2 linked regions of the Homo sapiens genome follow. The protein of the gene in region 1 purifies or fractionates together with the protein of each later gene. This does not show direct contact. Each region holds a gene or a part of one and is shown in the gene's direction. Other genes may lie near its edges.

Evidence for each region.
Region 2: the proteins of NDRG1 (region 1) and ACSL3 purify together in Homo sapiens (affinity purification with mass spectrometry; one large-scale study listed by BioGRID and IntAct). This does not show direct contact.

What each region holds. Positions count from the first base shown.
Region 1 is NC_000008.11:133,255,753-133,259,252, reverse strand, and holds part of NDRG1 (protein NDRG1), read left to right. Parts: intron 1-22; coding exon 23-85; intron 86-826; coding exon 827-887; intron 888-2,389; coding exon 2,390-2,476; coding exon of another isoform or gene 2,477-2,527; intron 2,528-3,500. UniProt on the Homo sapiens protein: Stress-responsive protein involved in hormone responses, cell growth, and differentiation. Acts as a tumor suppressor in many cell types. Necessary but not sufficient for p53/TP53-mediated caspase activation and apoptosis.
Region 2 is NC_000002.12:222,864,036-222,867,535, forward strand, and holds part of ACSL3 (fatty acid CoA ligase Acsl3), read left to right. Parts: intron 1-3,500. UniProt on the Homo sapiens protein: Acyl-CoA synthetases (ACSL) activates long-chain fatty acids for both synthesis of cellular lipids, and degradation via beta-oxidation.

The sequences.
Region 1 (3,500 bases):
GGCTTCTCTGTGTCATCCCCAGGTACATGTACCCCTCCATGGATCAGCTGGCTGAAATGCTTCCTGGAGTCCTTCAACAGTTTGGGTAAGAGCGAAGGATCAGCTCCTTCTCTGTCTGCAGAGAAGCCTGGTTTCTAGCATCTTCCTGCCCCTTGGCTTTGATCTGGACTGACCACTAAAATTAAGGTTGCAATTTAGAGATGAGGCAAGAAATTAGCTCGTCACTCTGTGAACACTGTTCTTCACACAGTCTCTGAGCTCTAGTCTGTCTCCTCTAACTTCAGTTTTCCTCTTGCGTGAATGTTATATTGCATGATGGCAGCTGCCCCACCCATTTGCTCTTGCCTCCTGTTCTTCCATTCCCTTCTCTTTCCCATGGAATGTTCTGGAATGGAGTTGCCTGAGTCCTTAGCTTTTCTCTCCACACCCTCATTTTTCCAGTGTTCCTCTCTGTCTTGAGCTCTTCAAAGAATGATAACTTCATGGTTCTTGCTCAATTTGTTTTCATTCCAAGTTTTAGAATCCAAAATAAAGCTTAAGAGTGGGAAGAAATGATGCCGTAACGGGCCTTCCCGTAAATGTCAGACGGTCTCTCAGAGCCTGGGTGGCGGCCAGGAGGGAAGTGAGGAGAAGGGGCGCGGCTCTCCAAGGTCGAGGTCTCTGTCCAGTCCTAAAGCATGGTGACCTCAGAGCTGTGCAGGCAGTTACGGCAGCATGCTCCCGCATTGCCTAGCCAGGCGGTCACCCTCAGGAAGTTCTAAGTGGGTCCTTGGAGGCTCCCGTCACTCTGTCCTTGTGTGACATGCATTTGTATTTTTGCTTCCAGGCTGAAAAGCATTATTGGCATGGGAACAGGAGCAGGCGCCTACATCCTAACTCGATTTGCTGTGAGTGCTTTGGCATTTTTTGAAAATCGCATTTTAAATAACATTTTAAGATGAAGGAAGACATTGGAAAAGCATCAAAAACCCAAAAGGGAAAAAGAAATGACCCGTATTCTCCACAGTTGTGTGTGTGTGTGTGTGTGGTGCATGGGTACTCGTATATATATATACTCACAGCCTTTTCTCTTCCTCCACTCAAGGATGATACTGGACACATTCCTTTGTCATGGGCTTTGTCCGCTTAGCCATCTAGTGAGGACGCTCCTCACTCACTGAGTACTCTGCTATGACACTGCTTTGTAACAGCTGTACAGGTTTTTGTAGTCAGGGCACTCCTGGGTCATAACTGATTCTAAACTAGAATCAGACACGGGAAGTTTTCATGACAGTTGTCATTGTTATTTCTCTGGGCTCAGGTCAAGAGCCACTGTTCCTTTGTATCCTCACCGAGCAATTGTGTAAGAATGCAACAATACTCATTTTGTACATCCATTGGTATTTTGACTACCTATTATTTGCTGGGCTTTGCTGGAGGTTGGGAATACTGACATGATTCTACAACATCCATCTTACAAAAAAAAGAAAGGAATGCTGACATGAATACAAAATGGTCTGGCCATATAGGCTCTCAGCAAATTAAAAATGGTCTCAACTGTACCCCAGGTGTACATATCTATATCTGTATGTATCTGCATCACATAATGACATTTTGGTCAATGACAGACTGCACATTTGACAGTGGTTCCATAAGATTATAATGGTTCATTTTTACTGTACCATTTTTATGTTTAGATTTGCTTAGATACATCAATACTTAGCATTGTGTTGCAATTCCCTGCAGTATTGGGTAGCGTCATATGCTGTACAGGTTTGTACAGCAAACCTAGGAGCAAAGGGCTGTTCTATACAGCCTTGGTGAGTTGTAGACTATACTGTCTAGGTGTGTGTAAGTATACTCTGAGATCTTCACACAATGACAAAATCTCCTAATGATGAATTTTCTCAGAAAGTATCCCTGTTATTCAGCGATGCATAACTCTGTCTCTCTCTCTGTGTGTGTGTGTGTGTGTGTGTGTGTGTGTGTGTATGCATGTGTTTATCCTGGAAGTAAGTAATACAGTTGTTACTGCCACAACTAGAGAGCATTTGTGCTGTGCGCCTTGTTTGATTGATGAGGTCGATGGTGTGTTACACCCATTTGATAGCTGGAGAAGCTGAGCCTCCGTGGGTTGAAGTGACTTGCCCAAGGCAGGCCTGCAAAGCAGCGGGCTTCCTACTTCTCCTGCACTTCCTCTTTCTCCTTCCCACTCTCTCTAGGACCCGATACCGTGTCTGCTGTGCTGGAACCTCAGTTTTGCATGGGGTGGGGCCGGGGAGCAGCAGCCTGCTCTGCTGCCCACACTGCCTTTTTCTGGGTACTTCTCTCAAGCTTTGGTTTGCCTTGGAAAGTTCCTAGTGTTTCAGATTGCTGGGATGTCTGTCTCACTTTGTGTCTTGAATTGCAGCTAAACAACCCTGAGATGGTGGAGGGCCTTGTCCTTATCAACGTGAACCCTTGTGCGGAAGGCTGGATGGACTGGGCCGCCTCCAAGGTGAGGTGGGGGCCTGTCAGGCCGGCGGGATCCCTGCAAGAAGAGGGACAGGTGCACACAGCCTCTGCCTGGGGGATCCCTGGAGCTACGAGCTCTCTCTTTACCCACTCCTCCACTACCCTCTACTGCCCACTCCAGTTCCCTCTGCTTTACTTAGAACAGTACACATGACCTCAGCCGTTTGCCATTCAGAAGACTTAAATACCACCAAGCTGTCTAAGCCAGGGAAAGCACTGGGACACAGGTCCCTGAGGCAGCTTGGAGAAGCATTGCTTGGATTAATGAGTATTAGCTGGGTACATAACTTGTGCCAGGCTTTGGTCAAGATGCTGAGCATCTTGAAGAACAAGACTTCTTGAGATGAACAAGACAAAAGCCTCTAGGAATGAATCTTAGGAATCCATTCACATATTATTAAAGAAAAATAAATATGTATTTAGTACGGACTGTGCCACAGAATTTTACGATAATAATTAGCTAACGTAGATTGAGAGTTTACCATGTGCTAGTTTCATTCTACGTTGCTGTGTGTGCATGATCTCAGTTAATCTTCATAGTAACTCTAGGAGGTGAGAATTTTTATCACCGTTTCAGAGGTAAGGACTCGGTGTGGCTAAGGGGATTGTCCAGGGTCACATAAAGCTAGGCAGTAGAACGGGGACTGGATGCAGCTTGCTTTGACTTTGTGGTTCGTGGACCTGACCACCCGTGCCCCTGGGGCTCCTGTCCAGGGTGGGAGACAGGCAGGCCTGGCAAGCAGGGTAGGCTGCCTGGAGGAGAAGGGACCTGTGCTGTCTTGGGAAGCTCTGTCCTGGCTGGTGTCCTAAGGTTCCTTGTTTATCTTTTAAAAATTATCATTGTGGTGTTTTTGTTTTTGTTTTTTTCCCTGTAAAGGCCTCAGTGTTGGCCAAGGAGAGGGGGAGGTCATTCCAGTTGAAATAGGACAGAGTCTTTCAAGCTGAGGTGATCGCAGCTTCTCATTCTGCAAGTGCATTTTTGCCCAATTTTGGGTGGCTGCCAGGGA
Region 2 (3,500 bases), on another chromosome or scaffold:
ACAGAAATACTGAGAAAATGGAGATAAAAAATTGTCAGGATATGGTGATAAATAGTAAATGGAGTGGGAGAAAGAGGTGCTAAGTGATTACTAGGTTTCAGACCTATGCAACTAAAGAGGTATGTGTGCTATTCACTGAGCTGGGGCTTAACTGGTAGAGAACTAGGTTCTGGATATGGGAAGGGCATGACTTTAGTTTTGGAAGTGTTCAGCTGGAGCTGCCTTTGAGGCCTTTATTGAGGTACTGGTTTTGTGCTGAGAATTGGGGTGGCCATTTACCGTTTTGAAGACCTCCATGTAGAGGCAAGAGCTCAAACCATGGGTATGGGTGAGATTGCCTGTGGGGAGGCTATAGAATAAGAAGAGAAGGAGGCCTGGGATGGAGCTGGGCAGAGGAGGTTGAGCTTGTCAAGGAGACAAGAGTGGCCAGGAAGGTCAGAGGACAGCCAGAAACAGATGTTCCTGCAAGGCGATGAGTCAGTACTGTGGAATGCTCCTATGAGAGAAGAATTGAGAACCATCATTGAATTTAGCAACATGGAGGTCACTGGTGACCTTTGAAAGAGATGCTGATCTGCAGGTAGGGGTGGGATGGGGAGCAGTGGGAGGTGAGGAAAACGGAGACAGAAACTGTTTCCAATAGGTTTGATTTCAGCATGTTTAAATGCTGATGGGAAGGCTCAGTGGAGAGGGAGTGGTTGAATATAGACTAGAAAAGGGTTTGTGCAGAGTTCCTAAAAGGATGGGGTTGGGATGGGACCCAAAGTACAACTGAGGCCTGTGTCTTTGCTGGGAGGAGGGGACACCTTCCACAGTAACAGAATACAGGCCTGTAACCTATGGAGTACTAAGCAAATGCCAAAAATTGTCAAGAACTGTTAAATTTCTAAAAATTAGCCCAATTTTAGTTGACTCATGACAGTCTTTTAGAAAACTTTGTTGCAAGAGCATTGTGTGATTGATTTAAAATGTGGCTCAGTCTTAATTTCATCCCTCAATAGAGTATATATTTTCATCTGACTTTTGATTGTAATTTATTTATTTTCTGAAAAAGGAGACATTGTAAATGTTAAATCCTGTGGTGCCTTCCTTACATGTTTATTTTTGGTTTCATTAGAAAAAAGCTTTCAGACGGTTTCTGTTTTCCTGACATCATAGGTGCCTTAATTCTTTTAATTTAAAGTTTAGCTTCTGTTATTATTGGAATATGTTTATTTACGTATTTTTGATGTTTCCCATTTTGAAGGGTAAAGAATTGGATGATTCAGTAGTTTCAACTGATCTGCTAATTTTTGTTTAGAATTGAAGATACTTAAATAACCAACCTTTTGGATAAGTGGCCTCCAAATACAGCTTTCTGCTTGTTTGTGAAGGTATTTGTTATTAAGGATTCATTCATTCATGTATTTACTTAGTGTCTGTTTTGCAAGGTACTCGGAATTTGGAAATGATTGGGCGAGTTCCTGCTCTTAAGGAGCTCACAGTTCACCACAGGAAAGAGGTGTATGAACAAATTACAGCATGGTGGAACAGAAGAAGGTATATGAGCAAATATATTACAGGATGGTATAATCAGTGCAGCAGTGGAATCTGCTAGGAAATAGAGAAAAAGTGCAGAGCAGGCACAGAGTAGGGAAGGAAAAGGGGAGACTTCTCAGTGGAGATGATAGCTGAACTAGGTTTTCCAAGATGAACTGGAGTTTTCCCAGGTCAACAGGGAGCCAGGAAATAGAATGTTTTACCTTGATTTTGGATCCTCTGTGTGTGTGTGTGTGTGTGTGTGTGTGTGTACACAGATGTGTACGCATTGGAGATGTTATAACGCTACCAAAGAATATTGTTAGAAAAATTAAAAATTGCTTATCTTACTATCCTCATGTTGATTGCTCTAGCTGTGAAAAGCTGCACATTTTCCCCTGTCCTGTCATGGTCAACTTTTCTGTCTCCTATTTGATGCAGAAAGTAACTGAACTTAATTATATTATTTGGATACAAAGCCTAGTTTTTGTTTTTCTAAATGAATGGTCTTTGGAATAAGGATAATAGCCAACACCTTTATAGTATACTGTGGCCAAATGCTGTTCTAATTTTTATCTCAGCCTTGCAAAATAGGTACTTTTTTTTTTTTGAGACGGAGTCTCGCTCTGTCCCCCTGGCTGGAGTGCAGTGGCATGATCTCGGCTCACTGTAAGCTCCGCTTCCCGGGTTCACGCCATTCTCCTGCCTCAGCCTCCTGAGTAGCTGGGACTACAGGTGCCCACCACCATGCCCGGCTAATTTTTTGTATTTTCGGTAGAGATGGGGTTTCACCATGTTAGTCAGGATGGTCTTGATCTTCTGACCTTGTGATCCGCCCGCCTCGCCCTCCCAAAGTACTGGGATTACAGGCTGGGAGCTACTGCGCTGACTGCAAAATAGGTTCTTTTATCATTCTAATTTTTACAGCTGAGGAAACTGAAGCACAGAGCAATTTAAGTGACTTGCACGATTGTGTGCTAAATGTGTGCTGGATTTCATCCCAGGCACTTTGGTTCCAGAGTCCCTGTTCTTAACCTGGGCGCTGCATCTCCTCTCTGGAGTGACAGTTTGAAGTTCATGTTAACCTTTGAAGGCATGATTGTGTAGGGAAAGGAGCTGTGATGACATTTAGGGGCAGTTTTATGTCTGTTTTAATTACACAAAGTTGCTGCCCCAAATAAAACTGCCCTGCCCCCCCCGCCCCCCCCCCCCCCCCCCCCCCCCGCCCCGGGGAAATCATAAGGAAATTGAGAGAATTTAACTAGAATTTTCTTTTTTTTCTTTTTCTTTTTTTTTTTTGAGACAGAGTCTTGCTCTGTCACCTATGCTGGAGTGCAGTGGTGTGATCTCTGCTCACTGCAACCTCCGCCTCCCGGGTTCAAGCAATTCTCCTGCCGCAGCCTCCCGAGGAGCTGGAATTACAAGTACCCACCACCACACTCGGCTAATTTTTGTATTTTTGGTAGAGATGGGGTTTCACCATGTTGGCCAGGCTGGTCTCTAACTCCTGACCTCGTGATCTGCCCATCTCAGCCTCCCAAAGTACTGGGATTGCAGATGTGAACCACCATGCCCGGCCTAGAATTTTCTTTTTGGACTTGAACATAATTCCTCAGGATGCTTTCCCCTTTAACCTTACTTCGCAGGAATTGTTATTGACTTTTTAGATTGGAATATAAAGGAATTTGGGATCCCATAGTCTGCTAATTCCATTTTCTTTTCCTGTCTTTTAACTAAAATATTGACGCACTTTCTGTATGTTTGAAAAATATTTCATAAAATTTAATCCACTTAAAGAAACCCACTCCTTTCCCCCAAATCTTACAGCTAACCACTGCTCTGAATTTGGTGTTTATTATTCCTATGTATTTCTGTACAGCTTTATTACACATGTGTGTTTCCTTAGACAGTGTATAGTATTGTTTTGTGTATTCTTAAACTTTATATAGATGGTACTGCATGTATTCTTGTTCAGCATACTG